2 separate regions of the Homo sapiens genome follow, and region 2 is linked to region 1. Evidence: fine-mapped expression QTL. A gene starts in region 1. The other region holds a variant in brackets. All regions are shown on one strand. Distances are between the middles of the regions. Region 1 holds the start of SPIC (Spi-C transcription factor). Region 2 has its middle 32 kb from the start of ARL1.

Evidence for each region. PIP is the estimated chance that this variant, and not a neighbour inherited with it, causes the effect.
Region 2: its variant is fine-mapped to the expression of SPIC in blood mononuclear cells (TOPMed, PIP above 0.99).

What each region holds. Positions count from the first base shown.
Region 1 is chr12:101,470,536-101,482,586 of GRCh38, reverse strand. It overlaps SPIC (Spi-C transcription factor), which reads right to left and starts at 7,251. Exons shown (of 6, transcript NM_152323.3): 1 at 7,085-7,251; 2 at 5,680-5,759; 3 at 4,936-5,029; 4 at 2,893-3,005. The coding sequence starts at 5,682. It also overlaps the pseudogene RNA5SP367. RefSeq lists an enhancer at 7,911-8,606.
Region 2 is chr12:101,433,915-101,445,965 of GRCh38, reverse strand. No RefSeq gene overlaps it. Among named protein-coding and RNA genes, the nearest start is that of ARL1, 32 kb to the right of the region's middle. The variant T/G (reference allele first, on the strand shown) is at 6,526.

The DNA of each region.
Region 1 (12,051 bases):
TGGCTTTGTGAGGAGTGTCATGTCCTACCCTCCCTACAAGAAAGAAGGGATTGCTTAAAGTCTGTGGTACCATCAGAAAGGGAAGATGGGCTTCCATTCCTGTGTTGGATGCCCATGTAGGCAAGGGGAGATAAGAAAAGAAAGATGTCAGTAGGCAGCTGGGAAGATAAAATAAAATAAGTAATGAAAACAATAAAAATTTTACAAGACAAGAAAGGGCCGAGCACGGTGGCTCATGCCTGTAATCTCAACAGTTTGGGAAGCCAAGGCAGGGGAATCACTTGAGCCCAGGAGTTCAAGACCAGCCTGGGCAACTTAGAGAGACCCCACCTCTACAATTTTTTTTTTTTTTTTGAGACAGAGTTTCACTCTTGTTGCCTAGGCTGGAGTGCAATGGCGCGATCTTGGCTCAACGCAACCTCCGCCTCCCAGTTTCAAGCGATTCTCCTGCCTCAGCCTCCCTAGTAGCTGGGCGTGCCACCATGCCCGGCTAATTTTGTATTTTTAGTAGAGATGGGGTTTCTCCATGTTGGCCAGGCTGGTCTTGAACTCCCGACCTCAGGCGATCCACCTGCCTCGGCCTCCCAAAGTGCTGGGATTACAGGCATGAGACACCGTGCCTGGCCTTTTTGTACGCCAGGCATGGTGGCTCATGCCTGTAATCCCAGCACTTTGGGAGGCCGAGGCGGGCGGATCGCCTGAAGTCAAGAGTTCGAGACCAGCCTGGCCAACGTGGTGAAACCCCGTCTCTACTAAAAGTACAAAAAAATTGGCTGGGTGCACAGTGGCTCACACTTGTAATTCCAACACTTTGGGAGGCCGAGGTGGGTGGATCACCTGAGGTCAGGTGTTTGAGATCAGCCTGGCCAACATGGTAAAACCCTGTCTCTACTAAAAATACAAAAATTAGCTGGGCATGGTGGCAGGCGCCTGTGATCCCAGCTAGCTACTAGGGAGGCTGAGGCAGGAGAATCGCTTGAACCTGGGAGGCGGAGGATGCAGTGAGCCGAGATCACACTATTGCACTCCAGCCTGGGTGACAACAGTGAAACTCTATCTCAAAAAAAAAAAAAAAATTAGCTGTGGGTGGTGGTGGGCACCTGTAATCCCACCTACTTGGGAGGCCGAGGCAGGAGAATCGCTTGAACCCAGGAGGCAGAGGTTGCAGTGAGCCGAGATGGTGCCATTGCACTACGGCCTGGGCAACAGAACAAAAAAATTTATATTTAAAAATTACCCAGGCCTGGTGGCACATGTCTATAGTCCCAGCTACTTGGGAAGCTGAGGCAGGAGGATCCCTTGACCCCAGGAATTTGAAGCTTCAGTGAGCTATAATCGCACCACTGCACTCCAACCTAGGTGAGAGAAAAATACCCTGTCTTAAAAAAAAAAGATGACAGCCAAGGGAAGGCAGAATAAAGAAAGGGGACAGGAAGAAGCAGCCCAAGCTTCTACCATTTACATATGGCAAGAAGAATATGTGGGTTTCCAAGGGTTAAACACCGGAAGGGGCTGGGCTTGAGCTGTCTTTCCACACCCCAATCAAGAAGGCTGACCAGCAGGCAAGGAGTCCCCAGGGATAAGAGGCTGTGAGGCACATGCTAGAAAATGGGAGCTGAAGTAGAAAGAAGAAGGGTTGCCAGATTTAGCAAACAAAATATTGGGCATCTTGCATTTTACCTGGCAACCCTAAGTGGAGGTGGAAGAGGTTAAGCTGGAACCAAAGCACCCTCTATTTAAAATTTTTATTTACAAAATTTTTTTTTGAGACAGGGTCTTGCTCTGTTGCCCAGGTTGGTCTCGAACTCTTGGGCTCAAGTGATCCTTCCTCCTCAGCCTCCCAAAACTTTGGGATTACAGGCGTGAGCCACTGAGCCCAGCCCAAAGCACTCTCTTAAAATAAAATGTCTTGTGAAGAGGCCCCAAGGGAACAATTTATAGAAACAGAAAAAGGACATTTGACATGGTGTGATTGAAGGTAGTGACTGAAGAAAAATAAAAACCAATTCACATTTATACCTCATCCCATGAAGACCGCTTGATAAAATGGATGCATGAAGAAGACAACTAAAAGAATACATGAATGGGGAGATGGCAGGGTGTTTCCCTTTGCAGATGCTGCTATTAATAAAATATCAATGAATTGGTCCAATACATGCAGATAACACTGAGTTTGAGAAGGAAAACAGAGCAGTCTAATACAAGACTGTAGGTAAAACCAGTGCAGGGGCAGTTTGGATCTTTGCCCTGTGGCTTTTAGGGGAAACTTTTTGCAATTTCCCAGATGGACTAAGGAGAAGCAACTGATATTAACATCCTGAAAACACCTCCTTTTTACGAAGTCATCCAAACCAGTCTGAGGCTAAGTAGAGAGCAATGATGAAGGGTTATTTCCTTCCTAACAGCATGTGATCATCCATGTTGACTGTCAAGTTCAGACTACAGCTGATGGCCCTTAAAAAGCATTTTCAGGTAGAGCACAGTGGCTCACGCCTGTAATCCTTCCCTTTGGGAGGCTGAGGCTGGTGGATCACCTGAAGTCAGGAGTTTGAGACCAGCCTGGCCAATATGTGGAAATCCTGTCTCCACTAAAAATACAGAAGTTAACTGGGCATTGTGGTGCACGCCTGTAACCCCAGCTACTTGGGAGGCTGAGGCAGGAGAATCACTTGAACCTGGGAGGCAGAGGTTGCAGTGAGCTGAGATTGAGCTACTGAACCCCAGCCTGGGTGACAGAGCCAGACTCCATCTCAAAAAAAAAAAAAAAAGAAAGAAAAAACCATTTTCATAGTCAATGCTGTCTTTAAGCTGGGTTTCAGACAGTGTATGTGAAATGGAAGGCTGGCAAGAATAGGATATTTGCCTGTTATTAAGGGATGGTCTGATACTTACAATTACCGTTCTCCAATTATAGACAGGCTCCTCTGTAGGCAACACTCCATAGCAGCTGGAATTTCCTTTGACATGAGGACGATGGTTGATTAAAGCCAGGTAATTTCTGTAATCTAATTTTAAATCAGAGAAAGAAACTAAAAAAGTCAAAGTTTGTATTTGTGCATATAAATATGTGTGTATATATATGCACTTATAGATGCAATTGCTCTCATCTATGTTTTCTTGCCACTTTGCACTTCTCCTGTGGTGTTTATCTCATTATGCTGCTATTATGGATACTGTTATACATATCCCATTTGGAGAACATGCTCCTTGCAGGCTGAAACCGCATGATTTCTTTCTTTCTTTCTTTCTTTCTTTCTTTCTTTCTTTCTTTCTTTCTTTTTTCTTTCTTTCTTTCTTTCTTTTTCTTTCTTTCTTTCTTTCTTTCCTTCCTTCTTTCTTTCTTTTTCTTTCTTTCTTTCTTTCCTTCTTTCTTTCTTTCTTTCTTTCTTTCTTTCTTTCTTTCTTTCTTTCTTTTTCTTTCTTTCTTTCTTTTCTTTCTTTTTTTTTTTTAAGACAGGGTCTTGCTCTGTTACCCAGGCTGGAGTGCGGCCACGTTATTTCGGTTCACTGCAGCCTGTGCCTCCTGGCCTCAAGTGATCCTCCCACCTCAGCCTCCCAAGTAGCTGGGACTCCAGGCACACGCCACCACACTTGGCTAATTTTTGTATTTTTTGTAGAGACAGGGTTTTGCCATGTTGCCCAGGCTGGTCTTGAACTCCTGGGCTCAAGTGATCCACCCACCTTGGCTTCCCAAAGTGCTGGAATCACAGGTGTGAGCCACCATGCCCTGCCCACATGATTTCTCTTATCTTGGAACACCCTGTAATACCCTATATAAACTTAATACATAACATATTTGCATTCTATTTAGACTATATAGTCCATAGGATAATGGGTGAGGAAGGATAAAAATACTTATTCTTCCAAGTAGAATATATCTTGTTGTGTGGGTGGAAGGTCTATAAGATTCATTGGAACAATTTAAAAGCCTTTCGTGAATAGTTAAAATGAACTGTCTATTAGATAAATAAATGTCAACCAGATATTTCTAATAGCAGATAATTATATATCTTTGTATTTCTGTGTGGAATGTCATCCTCTATATTCTCTGCATTTTTATATGTGAGACTTTAGTTTTATTTAGGCTAGATACTCCTGGACATATTTTGCCTTTGCTAGAATTAATCCTGGATGCTTCAGGTAAAAATGATCTCGTTTTTGAGTCCAGGAGTTCCAGACCAGCCTGGGCAACATAGTGAGACCCTGTCTCTACAAAAAAATAAACAAATAAAAATTAAATTAAAGATAAAAAAGGTCACCGGGCACAGTGGCTCATGCCTGTAATCCCAGCGCTTTGGGAGGCCGAGATGGGCGGATCACGAGGTCAGGAGATCGAGAACATCCTGGCTAACACGGTGAAACCCCGTCTCTACTAAAAATACAAAAAATTAGATGGGCATGGTGGCGGGCGCCTGTAGTCCCAGCTACTCGGGAGGCTGAGGCAGGAGAATGGCGTGAACCCGGGAGGAGGAGCTTGCAGTGAGCCGAGATCGCGCCACTGCACGCCAGCCTGGGCGACAGAGTGAGACTTCGTCTCAAAAAAAAAAAAAAAAGAAAAAAGAAAAAAGAAAAAAAAGGTCTTCTCTGTTCTGATCATTATCCTGGAATACAGTGGCGCCATCTCGGCTTACTAAAGCTTCTGCCTCTCAGGTTCAGCAATTCTTAAGCCTCAGCCCCCAGAGTAGCTGGGATTACAGTCGCGCCACCATGCCTAGCTAATTTTTGTATTTTTAGTAGAGACAGGGTTTCGCCATATTGGCCAGGCAGGTCTTGAATTCCTGGTCTTAAGTGATCTGCCCACCTTGGCCTCCCAAAGTGCTGGGATTACAGATGTGAGCCACAGCACCTGGTCAGCTGATCATTATTCTTATATGTGTATGTGACCAACAAGCCATTTGATGTACCAGCAGAAGAGGGTAAATGACTCATCTTTACCTGGCGAGTACTGAAGATCTCCAGTTGAATGTTGCCTCAGAACCTCAAAAGCATCTTCAAATGCTTGACCCAGCTTGTCTTGTTCAACACACGTCTGTTGGAACAATGATAGAATTCTGGAGTTTTCGAATTACCAATTAAACTTAATCTCCCTGATTTAAAATAGTATTTAGTCTAAAGGAGGGTTTCTCAATCTTGACACTATGGGCATTTGGTGTTGGCTGTCTCTGTTGTCAGGGGGGCTGCCTGTGCATTGTACGATGTTTAGCAGCTTCCCTGACCCCTACCCACTGGTTGCCAGTAGTACCTTCACAGTTGTGACCGTCAAAAATGTTTCCGACATCACCAAATGTACCCTGAGGCACAAAATCAATCACAGTTGAAACACACTCCATTATAGTATACTATTTAGAGAATGGTATTCATTCTATAGTACAGTATTTAACATTATTGCAAAATTTTAGCAAGGAGTTGTAGAGCAGAGGAGAGTGATTTAGAAAAAAAGGGCCAAGGAAATATCTTCAATGAAACAGAACCTATGAATTGTTGTTTAAAAATGAAATGCTCTTATGTCTCCAAGACCTAAAATTGAATTGCTTTGCAAACTATTTCATATCCTTATTAACATGATCGATATATTTTATTTTTAAAATGGAGGGAGAGTAAAGAAAAAAGTTTTTTAATTATTATGCTGTAGAGCTCCTCTGTGGACAGAGTAAAGAAAATATTAAAATGTCAGCTTACCATATTTCATTAATAAATTGACAATTCTGTTCCTTAGCAATTGTTGCTTGAAGAAAATAAAATAAAATAAGTTGACAATCCTGAAAAAGTTTAATATTTAAAAAGCAAAATTAAATGCAGTCTCTAATTTGATTCTGAATAAGATCTTGCTCAAAAATATTTTCTGAAAATACCTTACATAAACCAAGAGTACCTCCTGAATTCTCTTTGATGAGTACAAATTTTTTTCTACGAAATTTTCTACAAACATTTCTTTTTGCTTTTCCATGATTACAAAATGCTTTAAATATTAAAATAGCTATATATTTAATTATCTGAGCTGCTTGATTGATAAGAGAAAGTGGAAATAACTCAAAAGTATATATAAGTATTTCAAAATTATTTTAAATATTCTAAAATTCTGAAAATCAAAATCCTTTTTACCTTAGCATAGCTTTATAAAAATAGGGCTTTTTTAAAAAACCTTTCTTTGGTGTTATATTGCCTTCTGAGAATCTGGCAAAAGCCATCCTTTTCCTCCCATGAAAATTGGACTTATATTGCAAATAAAATTTAGCCTGTGAAGACTATCCTTGGACTTGCTTGAATCCTAGGCTAAGAAAACTCGTCTATAATTTTGTTATTTACTTTCTTATCTCTAAGTAATTCTGATTTTGCTTTAGAGAAACAATTATCACACCGACCCACAATTAAATGCTTTTAACTCTACGTTCTATAGACCAACACAGGGAACAAACAAACAAAAACCAACCCACATAATAAAAAGAACTGTGGTGGGTCCAAAATTGCTTATCATTCCATTAAGTAAACCCAGCAGTTCTTTTTATGCAAGTATTTATCTTCTTAGTATTTACCCGCAAACACAATGTGTTTACTCTTTAGTGTTTAACTTTGAATAATAAAATGAGATGATGTAATCTAATGCCAATATTATATATATCCATCATATATCAACATAACATATTAAATATCAAAATTCTGCTTGGCTCTTTGAAATCATTACATCATGTCAGTTAAAAGAAAATAGAAGAAAATCCAGAAATCACTCTTCGGCTCATGGTCTTTAGTGAATATTATCAGTAGCACATATTTTTTAAAAGCCATGTCAGTGATTTTCAATTAACTGCTTTGACTCAAAAGTGCAGAAGCACTGAATGTTGTATTTTGAATTAAATATTTAAAAATGAACATGTTCTCTTTGACTAAAATGCTCCACAAGACTATCGCAGCTATTACAAGTAGCAAATCTAAAAGGAAGAAAAAGCTTGAAAACATTATTGATTACTATGATTGCTTAATATTTCTTGCATCTGAACACGCAGACAGTGAGAAACACTCATTAGGCCAAAGGAAAAAATGAACAGTGATTAGAAGATATTTAGAAAAACATAAGCTGAGAACTTACCGGGAAGACACTTCAACCCTTTATAGAGATGTTTCATTAATATCAGAACGGTAAATTCAACGGTAGGCTATCATGAAAATAAAAAATTATTTTCCAGTGCAATGGCTCTGATGAAAAAAAATAGTAATATTTTTTTTAAAAATTAGAATTGTTAAGACATAACCATCAAGAACATACTGGCAGAGTTGCATTAAATAGCTGTTTTTAAGGAAGTTCTTCAAAAGGGGATTTTTTTTAAAAGATACAGTGCCTTCACAATTTCTATTTCATGATATGATTAGTAGACACCAGGGGCTATTATTTTGAAGAGGCACATAGTAGTTTGCATCCCATCAGCCAAAAAGCAAAAAAGCATTAGAACAAGCCCCATGAATCCCCCGCCCAACTTAGGTTGCAGCTCTTCAGATTGCATAGCCCCACCGGAAACTTCTAACCCAGGCAACTCAGGCCCACCCTTCTTTTTTTAATTCATATTACTTCTCTCCCAATTCTGGACTCTATACTCTCTTTCTTGCCTGGACTGTCAACAGCCTTCACTCTGGACTCTCCAAATCGGTCTTTCCTCCTAAACTACTTTACTTACACTGCCATTCACTGATCGCCTTAGAGAGCTTAAAGGCTTAGGGCCCTTGTCCTGACATTCAAGGCTCTTGAGCCTTAGCCTTATATCTTGCCACTCAGTTGAGTGGGGATAATAGAATCCATGCTCTTGCTTTCCTCCACACCTAAATTCAGTAGCGGCTCCAAAATGGTTAGGAAAACCTTATGGGGGGCCATGTGGTTGGACATACCTGAGGCTGCTGCATTCCTAATGCAGGTCCCGTTCTCTTACTTGGCTTCAAGGTTTATTTGGGGTGGCTCTGTTGGAAATTATGAGACGCTCCCTCCACCTAAAATACTTTCCTCCCAGTTCATCCCCCTGCAGATTCGCCCATTTTATGTTACCTGTCCATCAGTGTCCAAAGCAGCATCCACTTGTACACGGTGGAAATAACCTTCCTGTCCCCTGAAACACATGTCTGCCTCTCACTTGGCTAACCTGAAACCTGCCATTTTAATAGCTGTCACATTTTGGCCAGGGGGAAAACCGCCTAAGAATTTTTTGTAAACCTTGTGGGTGGGGAGAGTGAAGAGGGTCTGTGATTTCAAAGCTGCCAGTAACTTCAGTTTTGCATTGTTGGAGCCTAACCTCACCTTTGATAGGGGACTATTGTTTTGGACCAATTACTTTTTTGAGCCAATTTGTTATGCAAATGTTAACACACAGTCCTTCTTCTGATATGCAGATCTTATAATAACAGGTATAAAACGGTAATCACTAATGTTGATTTGTTTTTAATCTGTACTAGTCTACACCCTTTTCAAGCCACCTTATTTGGTTCATTCGTTCAACATATTACTGAGCTCTTCACTCTTCTGGGCACTGCCCCATGTCCAGGAGCTACAGCCCTGAACAAATCCTTATGAGAAGAAATGATTTTTAAAAAATAAACACATTGGTAAAGTATTAGATAAGAAGTGTCAAAAACAACAATACAAAAGAGAAAGATTATGAAGACAGTGTGCGAATAGCCAGGAAAAATCTCTGAGGAGGAAAGCGGTGTGAGCTGAAACCCAAGAAGAAGACTTAAGAGTGAGCAGGCGGGCAGGGTGTCTGGTGCCTATATCCCCGCTAAGCAGCTACACAGGAGGATGGCTTGAGGCCAGGAGTTTGAGACCAGCCTGGACAGCACAGTGAAACCCCCAAGAAAAATGGAGTGCCTCCCCACCCTGCCTCAGAAAAATGAAGGAGTGAGCAAAACAAAAAGCAGAGATGCAAATATTTGGAGGAGCACCTCCTGGCAGAGGAAGCAGCAGGTGCAAAGAGCCTGGGATGGAAATGAGTTTGGCATTCAAGACACAGAAAAAAAGCGGGAGGAGGAGAGGAGGCTGCAGGAAAATGCACCTGGGGGCTAAGAGGCAAAGTTGGAGAAGAAAGAGGCAGGATCCAGATCAACATACACATCAAGCCCTAAAATAATCACAAGTCATGTATGGCAGTCGTTATCTGTGTACCCCCATGTCACAGATGAGGAATCTAAACTGAAGTTCAAAGATGTTTTGTGATTTTCCCTAAGGTTCAACTTCTAGTGAGGTGGGCTGGGCCAGATCCAAATTTGGGTTAATTCCACTTCATGTGCACGCTCTCAGCCCTGGAGACCTGTGTGTGCAGTTGAGGCTGCCTTCGACCAGGTGCTCAGTCCCAACGGCAAACTCCACAGCACCCAGCCCATGCTTGTCACATATTAATACTACAGGTGTGGTGAGTATTTGAAATGAATGTAAACACAGTGAACTTTTTTTTTTTTTTGAGACAGAGTCTCCCTCAGTCCCCTAGGCTGGAGTGCAATCGCATGATCTTGGCTCACTGCAACTTCCACCTCCTGGGTTCAAGCGATTCTCCTGCCTCAGCCTGCCGAGTAACTGGGATTACAGGCCACCACCACATCCAGCTAATTTTTGTATTTTTAGTAGAGACGGGGTTTCACCATATTGGCCAGGCTGTAATCCCAGCTACTCAGGCTGGTTAATTTTTGTATTTTTAGTAGAGATGGGGTTTCACCATGTTGGCCAGGCTGGTCTTGAACTCCTGACCTCAGGTGATCCACCCGCCTTGGCCTCCCAAAGTGCTGGGATTACAGGCCTGAGCCACTACACCCAGCCTGAACTTTCTTTTTTTTTAATTTTTAATTTTTATTTTTATTTCCAAGATGGAGTCTCTGTCACCCAGGCTGGAGTTCAGTGACGTGATCTCGGCTCACTGCAACCTCTGCCTGCCGGGTTCAAGTGATTCTCCTGCCTCAGCCTCCTGAGTAGCTGGGATTACAGGCCCACGCCATCGCACAGGGTTAATTTTTGCATTTTTAGTAGAGATGGGGTTTCACCATGTTGGCCAGGCTGGTCTCAAACTCGTGACCTCAGGTGATATGCCTGCCTCGGCCTCCCAAATTGCTGGGATTACAGGCATGAACCACCACGCCTGGACTATTTTTTTTTTAATGTAAATAAATTAAAACCCTGATATTTCTAGGTGGGATCTCATCCAAGTACTAAACTGGCCCTACACGCCTTGGTGTCTAAAATCGGAAGAGGTCAGGCCTGTTCAAGGTGTTATGGCCATAAAAAAGTGATTTTTTTTTTTTTTTTTTTTGAGAGTGAGCCTTGCTCTATCGCCCAGGCTGGAGTGCAGTGGCACCATATCAGCTTAATGCAACCTCCACCTCCTGGGTTTAAGCAATTCTCATGCCTCAGCCTCCCAAGTAGCTGTGATTACAGGCGCCTGCCACCATGCCTGGCTAATTTTTCTATTTTTAGTAGAGATGGGGTTTCACCATGTTGGCCAGGCTGATCTCAAACTCCTTACTTAGCTCAAGTGATCTTCCAGCCTCGGCCTCCTAAAGTGCTACGATTACAGGCATGATTCACCGTGACCGGCCAACAAGTAAACTTTCTAAGCTAGCATTTCCCCAACTATTGTCTCTAGAGTTTGATTATGCAGGATATTAATAAATGAACCTGGCAAAAGTGTTGAGTGGAAGCTAGGGTTGCTGCCTAGAACTTCCTTAGTGAAGTCAATGAGTGTGTTGATTTTTTTTTTTTTTTTTTTTTTGAGGTAGGGTCTCACTCTGTCACTCAGGCTGGAGTGCAGTGGTGCAATCATAGCTCACTAAAGCCTCAACCTCTTAGGCTCAAGTGATCCTCCTGCCTCAACCTCCCAAGTAGCTGGGACTGCAGGCAGGCACCACCATGCCGAGCTAATTTTTACATTTTTTGTAGAGATGGGGTCTCACCATGTTGCCCAGGTTGGTCTCGAACTCCTGGGCTTAAGCCATCCTCCTGCCTCGGCCTCCCAAAGTACTGGGAATACAGGTGTGAGACACTGCATACGGCCTGTTGGAGATATATGTATATATATACAACCCTACGTTACAGATGCAAAAACAGAAATGCAGCTTTAGGGTTCTCTGTAGGGCTAAGATGTGAAGTTGTTTTGGCATCTTGAAAAGTTAATGCAATAGACTTTTAGCATTTTAGAAGTCAAAACTCCTATCTCTTGAGAATCTGATGAAAGCTGGCAGTTATTTTCCCAGGAAAATGCCATCAGCACACATTTTCAGGCAAACCCTCCCAGTAGGGCCAGTGAACTCCAATTTGGGAGCCCCTGCAGTATTTATTTAATATATGGACACCAATGTTTCCCTCAACTCCAGAAATGAGCTGAGTAACAAGCTAAGGGCTCTGAAGAGAGGATCCCTGATTGACAGATTCACTTTTGCAGAAGTTCATTGTCCTCAGTGGCAATGGAGATTATTTTAGAAAATCTTAAGCAACACATGTGCTGGCGTACAAATCATATGGTGACACGCTTCAGGTGGAAGACTGTGTTTTCTGAGAATAGGGAACTGCAGAACCCAAAAAGGGAGATCAAGTTCAAGCTCTTATCATTCCTCACAAATTCTTCTTCAATAATTCAGTTGTTGAAGTGACTAAAGAATTTGGTCTTAATCTTGGCAAGATCTTTGGAAACTCCAATAAGCAAATAATAAAGATTGTTAGCAGACTGGGGAGAAGGTGCTAGAAAACTCCTCATGTTTGGCTGGGTGCGGTGGCTCACACCTATAATCTCATTACTTTGGGTGGCTAAAGTGAGAGGATCGCTTGAGGCCAGGAGTTCAAGACCAGCCTGGTCAACATAGTGAGACCCCCATCTCAATTATTTTTTTAAAAAAAGAAAGGAAGCCTGGGCACGCTGGCTCATGCCTGTAATCAATCCCAGCACTTTGGGAGGCCAAGGCGGGAGTTCGAGACCAGCCTGACCAACATGGAGAAACCCCGTCTCTACTAAAAATACAAAATTGGTAGGGCGTGGTGGCGGGTGCCTGTAATCCCAGCTACTCAGGAGGCTGAGGCAGGAGAATTGCTTGAAC
Region 2 (12,051 bases), 37 kb after region 1:
CTCGGCTCACTGCAACCAACCTCCGCCTCCCAGGCTCAAGCCATTCTCCCACCTCAGCCTTCCAAGTAGCTGGGACCACAGACATGCACCACCACACCCAGCTAAGTTTTGTATTTTTTGGTAGAGACGGGGTTTTGCCATGTTGCCCAGGCTGGTCTCAAACTCCTGAGCTCAAGCAGTCCACCTGTCTGGGCCTCCCAAAGTGCTAAGGTTACAGGCGTGAACCACAATACCCAACAACAAATGGATTTTATAATTCTTTCCTATCTTCTATTTGTGTTATTAAAAACCAATCTGGTGTTCTTCAAAAGCCTCCACTGTTGAAACACATAGACGATATTAAGTCAGAGTGGCTAAGGGCACAGGCTAGAGTGCCTGACACATAGTGGTTCAAACCCCTGATCTCATTTATCAGGAGTAACCTTGAACAATTAACTAATTCTGTAGTTTCCTCATTTGGAAACTGATTGTAATGAGAGTCCCTGCAGCTCATTTGCTTGTAATAGTGTTAAATGAAGCAATCAATGTAATAAAGCACCCAGCACGTGGCCTGGCACAAAGTAAGAGCTCAATAAATATTCAAGATTTTTTTTTTTTTAATCCTAGCCACTAGACCACTAGGGGCATGATTGTTATTATTACAAATTTTTTTCTTTTTGTTTTTGTTTTTTTGAGACAGAGTCTCACTCTGTCACCAGGCTAGAGTGCAGTGGCGTGATCTGGGCTCACTGCAACCTCCACCTCCCAGGTTCAAGCAATTCTCCTGCCTCAGCCTCCCGAGTAGCTGGGACTACAGGCATGCGCCACCACGCCCAGCTACTTTTTGTGTTTTTTAGTAGAGACGGGGTTTCACCATGTTGGCCAGGATGATCTCCATCTCTTGACCTCGTGATCCACCCGCCTCAGCCTCCCAAAGTGCTGGGATTACAGGCGTGAGCCACCGCGCCCGGCCTATTATTATAATTAATACACACAAGATCAAGCAGAGACGGTTGTTCTCCCTAAGACTTTGTCAATCTCTTTTGCCACTGGGATAGGGCCATATGATTTGTTCTGGCCAAAAAACTATAGGTGGAAGTGCCATATGCTGCCTCTATCTGGAACTTCCCCTGCTACAGGGACCTTGGAGGATGCATGCTCCACGAGAAGTAGCTACAAGATGGAGATAGGTTGCCTGTCACATATACAATTTCAATGAATAAGAAGTAAATCTTGGCCAGGTGCGGTGGCTCACGCCTGTAATCCCAGCACTTTGAGAGGCTGAGGTGGGCGGATCACGAGGTTAGGAGTTGAGCCTGGCCAACACGGTGAAACCCCGTCTCTACTAAAAATACAAAAATTAGCCGGTCGTGGTGACGCATGCCTATAATCCCACCTACTCAGGAGGCTGAGGCAGAAGAATCGCTCGAACCCGGGAGGTGGAGGTTGCAGCGAGCTGAGATTGTGCCATTACACTCCAGCCTGAGCAACAGAGCGAGACTCTCTCTAAAAAAAAAAAAAAAAAAAAAAAAGGTAAATCTTTTTGTCTCCAGCCACAGACATATCAAGGTTTGTATTTTACTGCAGCAGAATCTAACATATCCTGGACTAATGTAAGTAGCATGTCCATATAAGGTGTGAATGATAGTTTGACAATTATTCCACAGACTAAATATACAAGTTTTTATGGTTGTTTTTCTTTTTTCTTTTTCTTTTTCTTTTTTCCTTTTTTTTTTTTTTTGAGTCGGGGTCTCACTTTATAGTCCAGGCTGTAGTGCAGTGGTGCAATCACAGCTCACTGCAGCCTCAACCTCCTGGGCTCAAATGATCCTCTCACCTCAGCCTCACGAGTAGCTGGGACTATAGGCGAGTGCCACCACACCTGGTTAATTTAAAAAAATAATAAATTGGGGGACCAGACGCAATGGCTTGCACCAGTAATTTCAGCACTTTGGGAGGCCGAGGCGGGCGGATCACTTGAGGTCAGGAGTTTGAGACCAGCCTGGCTAACATCGCAAAAACCCACCTCTACTAAAAATACAAAATTAGCTGGGCATTGTGGTGGGTGCCTGTAATCCCAGCTACTTGGAAGGTTAAGGCAGGAGAATCACTTGAGGAAGCAGAGGTTGCAGTGAGCTGAGACCCTGCGCCACTGCATGCCAGCCTGGGTGACAGAGCAAGACTCCATCTCAAAAAAATAAAATAAAATAAAATAAATAAATAAGGCCGGGCTTGGTGGCTCACACCTGTAATCACTGCACTTTGGAAGGCCGAGGTGGATGGATCACTTGAGGTCAGGAGTTCGAGACCACCCTGGCCAACATGGTGAAACTCCATCTCTAATAAAAATACAAAATTAGCTGGGAGTGGTGGCGCTTGCCTGTAGTCCCAGCTACTTGGGAGGCTGAAGCAGGAGAATCACTTGAACCCAGGAGGTGGAGGTTGCAGTGAGCCAAGATTGTGCCACTGCACTCCAGCCTGGGCAATGAAAGCAAAACTCCATCGCAAAAAATGTAAATAAATAAACAAACTTTTTGTAGAGATGGGGTCTTACTATGTTGCCTAGGCTGATCTTGAACTCCTGGGCTCAAATGATCCTCCCACCTCAGCCTCCCAAAGTGCTGGGATTACAGATGTGAGCCACCATGCCCAGTCTAAGTATACTATTGATTGTATGTTTATTGATAGTTTATCGATAGTTTATTCTGTGTTTCCTGATACTCATTCAACACATATTTACTGAGCACTGACTACATATCTGACACTGTACTGTCAAACAGCAAGGAAAACTAGACAGGGTTTTTGTTGTTGTTGTTGTTGTTTGTTTTTTCGAGACAGAATCTCCCTCTCTAGCCTAGACTGGAGTGCAGTGGTTCGATTCACCTCACTGCAACCTCCACCTCCTGAGTTCAAGCAATTCTCCTGCCTCAGTCCCCTGAGTAGCTGAGACTACAGGGGCGTGCCACCGTGCCTGACTAATTTTTATACTTTTAGTAGAGATGGGATTTCACCATGTTGGCCAGGCTGGTCTCGAACTCCTAATCTCAAGTGATCCACCTGCCTCGGCCTTCCAAAGTGCTGGGATTACTAATGTGAGCCATTGCGCCTGGCCAATACGGGGTTCTTGCATTCAAGAAGGAATAGTCTAGTGGGGGAGACAGGCATTAATGAAATAATGACAAGTGGATGTATCACTGGCATAAAAACGGACACATAGACCGACAGAACACAATAGATAACTCAGATACAAAACCGCAAATTTACAGTCAACTCATTTTTGACAGAGGCACCAAGAAGATACGTTGGGGAAAGGACAGCCTCTTTAATAAATGGTGATGGGAAAACTGCATAGGATAACCCTATGCAGAAGAATGAAGCTAGACCCCTATCTCTCACCATATATAAGAATCAAATCAAAATGGATTAAAGACTTAAATCTAAGACCTGAAACTATGCAACTACTAGAAGAAAACATTGGGAAATGCTTCAGGACATTGGTCTGGGCAAAGACTTTTTGGGTAAGACCTCAAAAGCACAGGCAACAAAAACAAAAATAGACAAATGGGATTACATCAAGCTAAAAAGCTTCTGCACAGCAAAGGAAACAATCAACAAAATGAAAAGAGAGTTTACAGAATGGGAGAAAATATTTAATAGCCAAAATATGTAAGGAACTCAAACAACCAAATAGCAAAAAAAAGGATAATCTGATTTTAAAATGAACAAAAGATCTGAATAGACGTTTCTCAAAAAGAAGACAAATGGCTTACAAGTATATGTGAAAAAATGCTCAACATCATTAATCATCAGACAAATGCAAATCAAAACCAAACTGAGATATTATCTCATTCCAGTTAAAATGGCTATAACCAAAAAGACAAAAAATAATGGATGCTGATGAGGATGTGGAAAAAGGGAAATGCTTGTGCACTGTTGGTGGGATTGTAAATTAATACAACCACTATGCAGAACAGTATGGCAGTTCCTCAAAAAACTAAAAATAGAACTACCATATCATGTAGCAATCCCACTGCTGGGTATATATCCAAAAGAAAGGAAATCACAGTATGGAAGAATTATCTGCACTCCCATGTTTATTGCAGCACCATTTACAATAGCCAAGATGTGGAATCAGCCTGAGTGTCCACCAATGGATAAATAGTTAAAGAAAATATGGTACATATATAATGAAATATTATTCAGCCATACATAAGAGTAAAATCCTGTAAAATGCAGCAACATGGATGGAACTGGAGGTTATTATGTTAAGTGAAATGAGCCAGGCACAGTATGACAAATACCACATGATCTCACTCATATGTGGGAGCTTAAAAAGTGGATCTCATAGAGGTAGAGAGTTGATTGGTGGTTACCAGAGGCTGGCAAGAGAAGTGGGGCAGGGGACAAGGAAGAGAGATTGGTGAATGGGTACAAAAGTACAATTAGAAAGAACAAGATCTTATGTTTGATAGTACAGTAGGGTGACTATAGTTAACAGCAATATATTATATATTTCAAAATAGCTAGAAGAGAAGAATTGGAATGTTTCCAACATAATAAATGTTTGAGGAGATGGATACCCCAATCACTCTGATTTGATCATTACACATTGTATGTATGTATAAAAATATCACATGCACCCCCAAAATATGTACAACTATTATGTATTAATTTTTTGAAAAGTGTTACTGGTGTCATGCTCTAAAGAAAAGAGGGAACCAGGGTGCTATGAGAGCCTGTAGCTGAGAAATGAGATCTACCACCAGCTGGATGATCTTTGGTAACTTAATAGCCTCATTTTTTTCTATATAAGTACATTGGCTTAGATGATCATAAAGCTCCCTTCCAGCTCTAATATTCTATATTTCTTTGTGAAGTCCTTTCTCTTTATGTGTGTAAGCAGTTTTTTAATGGAAAAAAACAATTTAGCAGGAACATTGGCTAGCTGATACGGCAATGTGACTTCTTTTCATACTGCTAATGTGAATTCAATAGTCATGGGTAGCCTCCTTCAATGTTTTTGCTGAAACTTTGAAATATTGCTTACTAATCATCTTCAGAGGAACTTTGTGAGCTATGAGTAAGCAAGTTTCATTGAATAAGAAAAAGGCAGCTTACATTCATTTAGCAAAGATGGCCCTCTCTGTGGTGGCATTTGAAAAGAATGCTAAGAAAGCTGGTAATGGGATAACATCTCCTTCTAACTACCTGAAATCCCATGGTATTCATAACTCTTCAGAAAACTATTGAATGACAATGAATGTGTTTACTTGGAAACAATACCACTTTTTTTTTCCTGTCTAACACTTTTTTTTTTTTTTTTTTTTTGAGATGGAGTCTCGCTCTGTCGCCCAGGCTGGACTGCAGTGGCGCGATCTCGGCTCACTGCAAGCTCTGCCTCCCAGGTTCACGCCATTCTCCTGCCTCAGCCTCCCGAGTAGCTGGGACTACAGGCGGCCGCCACCACGCCCGGCTAATTTTTTTGGATTTTTAGTAGAGACGGGGTTTCACCGTGTTAGCCAGGATGGTCTCGATCTTCTGACTTCGTGATCCACCCGCCTTGGCCTCCCAAAGTGCTGGGATTACAGGCGTGAGCCACCACGCCCGGCCATTCCTATCTAATACTTGAGTGTGAATTTCTTTTTTTCTTTTCTTTTCTTTTCTTTTTTTTGAGACAGTTTTGCTCATGTTGAAGTCACTGGACGCTAAGGAAGGAGTTCAGAAAGACCTGGAGTTTGAGGGACTTGGCCAGAGAATGCAGACAGGTTGGGGTCCAGAAATAGGGATGCCCTAGGAAGACCCTGGCTGCCAGGCCAAGGGGACCCAAAATCAAAGATCAAGCCGGACACAGTGTCATAGAACTCAGGAGTTTGAGACCAGCCTGGGCAACATGGTAAAAACCCGTCTCTATAAAAAATACAAAAATTAACCAGGTGTGTGTGGCTCGTGCTTGTGGTCCCAGCTACTTGGGAGGCTGAGGTAGGAGGATTGCTGGAGCCCAGGAAGTCAAACTGCAGTGAGCTGTGATTGAGCCACTGCACTCCAGCCTGGGTGACAGAACAAGACCTGTTTCAAAGAAAAATTTTTTTTTAATTTAAAGAAAAGTCAAGGAAAAATAACTTTACTGCACAGTGTTTTCAGGGGATAACAATGAGTGCCTGACATGTTCATTACTAAATATGTTCACTACCTATTATGAAGCACTATACCATGCAACAATGGTCTTGCATACTCTAAAGAAAGAAGCATAGTCTAAGTACTTCAAACAAGAGAAGAAAGGAGTGTGAATTTTTTTGAATGACTGAAGGTCTTTGCTACCAGATCCATAACATCTGTGTACCTCAGATAGCTGTTAAAGACAAAAAGAACAAGAAAAAATTAGCATGAACATGAATTCATGTGACATTGATTCCCACGTTGATGCCAGCGAAAAAGTCAATACATAACAGCAAAATAACTTTAAAAAAATGACATGACTAAGCAAAGCTGGTATTAATAAGTCAGTTCTTCTTTTTGTAAAGGACTCGAAACTTGCTAACTTAATAG[T/G]AGGAGTTTTCTCATGCCCATAGCACCATTTTCACATCCCGCATTTTGCCAGATTGGCATTTCCTTCCTTATTGTTAAATATTGTCAGTATTTTGAAAGGAGAAAAGAAGTCCATTCGAATGTGTGTAGAATATTCTCAACAATTCTGATAGAACAAGTAGAATTTAAATCAGAAACAATTACATTTTTTTTAATTGAAAGGGCAAGGAACTTTGGTTAATGTTCTGTGTTCTTGGAGGAAAATGTCATATTTATATTAAAAGTAAATATATTTTCTGCATTCATTCAAGTGAAATAATTCACTTTATTTATTTATTTATTTATTTATTTATTTACAGACAGAGTTTCGCTCTTCTTGCCCATACTGGAGTGCAATGGTGCAATCTCAGCTCACTGCAACCTCCACCTCCCAGGTTCAAGCAATTCTCCCACCTCAGCCTCCCAAGCAGCTGGGATTACAGGTGCCCACCATCACGCCTGGCTAACTTTTTGTATTTTTAGTAGAGATGGGGTTTCACTATGTTGGCCAGGCTAGTCCCGAACTCCTGATCTCAGGTCATCCATCCGCCTCAGCCTCCCAAAGTGCTAGGATTACAGGCATGAGCCACCACGCCCGGCCAATTCACTTTATTTCATGTTATTCTTTTCTTTTGCTGGTCAATGAAATTATTATTTTTTTAACTATTCTTATTTCAATAGTTTTTGGGGAACAGGTGGATTTTGGTTACATGGATGAGTTCTCTAGTGGTAATCTCTGAGATTTTGGTGCACCCGTCACCCGAGGAGTGTACACTGTACTCAATGTGTAGCCCCCAAAGTCCATTGTATCATTCTTATGCCTTTGCATCCTCATAGCTTAGCTCCCATATTTCATATTATTCTTGAGTTGTCTCAAATATGATGTACACATATAGTTTGTAAGGAATTCTAAGAAAAGAGAAAAAAATTCTTCACAATTCTATCCATATCTTGTATTACAGAAGGAAATTTGAGGATCCAGTGGTTTTCAAATCTTTTTCTTTTTTAACCAGTGGAACATATTCCTACAACAGACTGTCACATGAAATGTCAACATATAAAACACAGGAAAGCTACCGTAGTGGGGAAGGTAACTGAGACTGTGCCTCGCATCTGGCCCTCCAAAGGCATCATAGAACTGTTTCAAAAATCGCTGATCTATCCCAAGCTGTTGATGCTGCTCAAAAAGGAAAACCAGGTTGCCTAACTTAGGTTAACTGGCTGGTCCCAAAACATAAAGTTGGTTTAAAAGAGAGTCTGGGGCCCAGCACGGTGGCTCACACCTATAATCCCAACACTTTGGGAGGCCAAGGTGGATGATCACTTGCGGTCAGGAATTCGAGACTAGCCTGGCCAAGATGGTGAAACTCATCTCTACTAAAAATACAAAAATTAGCAGGGCATGGTGGCAGGTACCTGTAATCCCAGCTATTCAGGAGGCTGAGGCAGGAGAATCTCTTGTACCTGGTAGGTGAAGGTTGCAGTGAGCTGGGATCATGCCACTGCATTCCAACCTGGCCGACAAAGCAAGACTCCATCTCAAAAAAAAAAAAAGAAAAAGAGAGAGAGAGAGAACCGGGTACTAGAACCTTGGTCTTTGATTCTCAACCCAGTACTCATTAAAAAAAAATTTTTTTTTTTGAGACAGAGTCTCAGTCTGTCACCCAGGCTGCAGTGCAGTGGCACACTCTTGGCTCACTGCAACCTCTGCCTTCCGGGTTCAAGCTATTCTCTTACCTCAGCCTCTGAAGTAGCTGATACTACAGGCATGCACCACCATGCCTGGATAATTTTTGTAGTTTTAGTAGAGATGGGGTTTTACCATGTTGCCCAGGCTGGTCTCAAACTCTTGACCTCAAGTGATCCGTTCGCCTTGGCCTCCCAAAGTGCTGGGATTACAGGTGTCAGCCACCATGCCTGGCCCCAGCATTCATTTTTAAATAAACTTTCTTTGCATCACTATTTTATCACACAGAGTTCAACATATCATAGGATCGTGAAAGAATATATTATGCTGACTCAGTCAATATCAAATAGAGATAATCACTTATATATATATATTTTTTTTAATGATTTTTAAAAAAATTTTTATAGAGATGGGGTTTTGCCATATTGCCCAGGCTGGTCTTGAATTCCTGGGGTCAAGCGATCTGCATGTCTTGGTCTCCCAACGTGCTTGGAATTATAGGTGTGAGCCATCTGGCCTAGCCAAGGTTATCATTATAATACACATTAAAAAATTTATTAAAATAATGTAATGCTGGGCATAGTGGCTCATGCCTGTAATCCTAACACTTTGGGAGGCTTAGGCAGGTGGATCTCTCGAGGTCACGAGTTCGAGACCAGCCTGACCAACATGGTGAAAACCCATCTCTACTAAAAATGCAAAATTAGCTGGGTGTGGTGGTGCACACCTGTAATCCTAGCTATTTGGGAGGCTGAGGCAGGAGAATCACTTGAACTCGGGAGGCAGGAGGTGGAGGTTGCAGGGAGCCAAGATTGTGCCATTGCACTCTAGTCTGGGCAACAAAGAGCAAAATTACGTCTCAAAATACATAAATAAATAAATAAATAAATAAATGTAATAATATAAAGTATTTTAATTGTTTTTTTTTTTTTGAGACAGAGTTTTACTCTTGTTGCCCAGGCACGATTTCAGCTCACTGCAACCTCTGCCTCCCAGGTTCAAGTGATTCTCCTGCTTCAGCCTCCCAAGTAGCTGGGATTACGCTTGGCTAATTTTTGTTATTTTTAGTAGGGATGGGGTTTCCCTATGTTGGTCAGGCTGGTCTTGAACTCCTGAACTCAGGTGATCCACCTGCCTCGGCCTCCCGAAGTGCTGGAATTACAGGCATGAGGCATGAGCCACTGCGCCCAGCCTATTTCAATATATTTTAAGTAAAATTTTATGGTAATACTTGGCCTTAAAATATGTTTTAGTCCTTGGCAAAGCAATGTGGATTCATTTTTATTTGAAAGGTATATTTTGAGTGACACATTGTGCTATGCTGAAATGAGCCAAACAGGTCCAGCAGCTGCTGTACACTGTGCCTATATGCTTATCCTCAGTCTTTGCATGACTGGTTCCTTCTTACCTCCCACACTTCAGGCTTCAGCTGGAATGTCACCTTCTTTGAGCCCTTTCCTGGCCCTTCTATCTAAAACAGCCTCTTCTTCCTAGTTACACTTTATCACCTTACCCTTCCTCTCCTCCAGAGAATTTATTGCTAACTGTATATATCTTACTTACCTACTTGTTTACATGTTGAAAGCTTCAAGTTGTGCCTCTTTTGGGACAAAGCCCCAGGAGAAAGCATGCCTGGGCTCAATGGCCAGGACTCAGTAAATATTTATTTATTTATTTATTTTTATTTATATATATTTTTAAGATGGAGTTTCACTCTTCTTGCCCAGGTTGGAGTGCAATGGTATGATCTCGCCTCACCGCAACCTCCACCTTCCAGGTTCAAGCGATTCTCCGGCCTCAGCCTCCCGGGTAGCTGAGGTTACAGGCATGCGCCACCGCACCTGGCTAATTTTATATTTTTAGTAGAGACGGAGCATCTCCATGTTGGTCAGGCTGGTCTTAAACTCCTGACCTCAGGTGATCCACCTGCCTTGGCCTCCCAAAGTGCTGGGATTACAGGCATGAGCCACCATGCCCAGCCTTATTTATTTATTTTTGAGATGGAGTCTGCTCTGTCACCCAGGCTGGAGTACAGTGGTGCAATCTTGGCTCACTGCAACTTCTGCTTCCCGGGGTTCAAGTGATTCCCCTGCCTCAGCCTCCCCAGTAGCTGAGATTACAGGCGTCCGCCACCATCCCTAGCTAATTTTTGTATTTTTAGTAAAGACAGGGATTTGCCATGTTGGCCAGGCTGGTCTCAAATTCCTGACCCAGGTGATCTGCCCACCTTGGCCTCCCAAAGTGCTGGGATTACAGGCATAAGCCACCGCACCCGGCTAATTTTTGTATGTTTAGTAGAGACAGGGTTTTGCCATGTTGGCCAGGCTAGTCTTGAATTCCTGACCTCAAGTGACCCACCTGCTTTGGCCTCCCAAAGTGCTGGGATGAATATTTATTGAATGAATGAATGATCAAACATGCATAGTGCCCAAGGGCACACAGCTGTACATGATAAACTTATAATTTAATAGGAGTGTGAATACAGGTTGTGCTTGGAATGGTTGTGGATAGACAGGGGTTCTCCAGCCCTGGAGAGGCAGTTTGTGGGAACAGAAGACTAATAACTGTCCCCTGTATGAATACTTCAGCCTCACTTCTTTCCTTAGCTAGTACTTAACCTCACTTTCCTCAGCTGTAAGTGAGAGCAATAACACCAACTTTGGTGTCCATTAATGGAAGTCTCTTTTCTCCATGCCTGCCAATGAGGCTTACAGGAGGTGCGCTGACTCTACAGGAGCACCTCATTGTGTGTATTTAGGGGATGGCAGGGAAGACTGGAATCACTCATCTTGAGCCAATGGTTACCGTTTCATTAAACGGATTGAGACCCTAATGGGACTGTTGGGAGGTTAGCTAGAGAGGGCCCACCAGAGGTCTATTTGCATGAAAGATCAGGAGCCTTCTAAGAAGGTTCTTATTCTAAGGAATCACTTAGTTACTGTAGGACAAAGCCAATTCTGAATGTTGCATGTTGCTACTCGCTCAGATTTGAAGAGTTTATGTATCATGTTGAAACCAGAACTAAGTTTTTTTTTTTCTCTTTTTTTTTTTTTTTTTTTTGGAGACATCTTACTCTGTCTCCCAGGCTCGAGTGCAGTGGCTCGATCTCAGCTCACTGCAACCTCCCCCTCCCGGTTCAAGCAATTCTACAGCCCCCCAGGTAGCTGGGACTACAGCCACGTGCCACCACGCCCGGCTAATTATTGTATCTTTAGAAGACAAGTTTTCACCATGTTGGCCAGGCTGGCCTCAAACTCCTGACCTGAAGTGATCTGCCCGCCTCAGCCTCCCAAAGTGCTGGGATTACAGGCATGAGCCACTGCACCCGGCCGAGTAAGTTCTTTTGACTTGACACAGAAGTTTTTATGAGACGTGATGGGGAAAGGACTACCCTGCACGGCTTGAACCTTTCTGTGTGTTGGCACATCGGAGAGTGCACCTGAATATCTCCCCATTGTAGGCTGAGAGAACACGCACGCATGGGCTTTGCATGGGGGTTAGGAGTCTTACAGTTTTATGCATAGAAAACAGAGCCTGAGAAATGCTATGTATTATTGTTAATAAATTTCTCCCTTTTCAGTTCATCTTCTTCCCAGTATCTCCCCAACAGAATGTTTTACAGCTGTTGAAAAGAACGAAGTAACTCTACATGTATTGATACAGAATATTTGCCAAGATATGTTATTTTTAAGTGTAAAAAGATACAGAACAGTGTAAATATTATGCTGCTATTTATATTAAAGGAAATATGCATGCATCTGTATATGCATATAATACATTTAGAAAGAAACACAAGACCATTAATAGTAATTAGTTTGGCC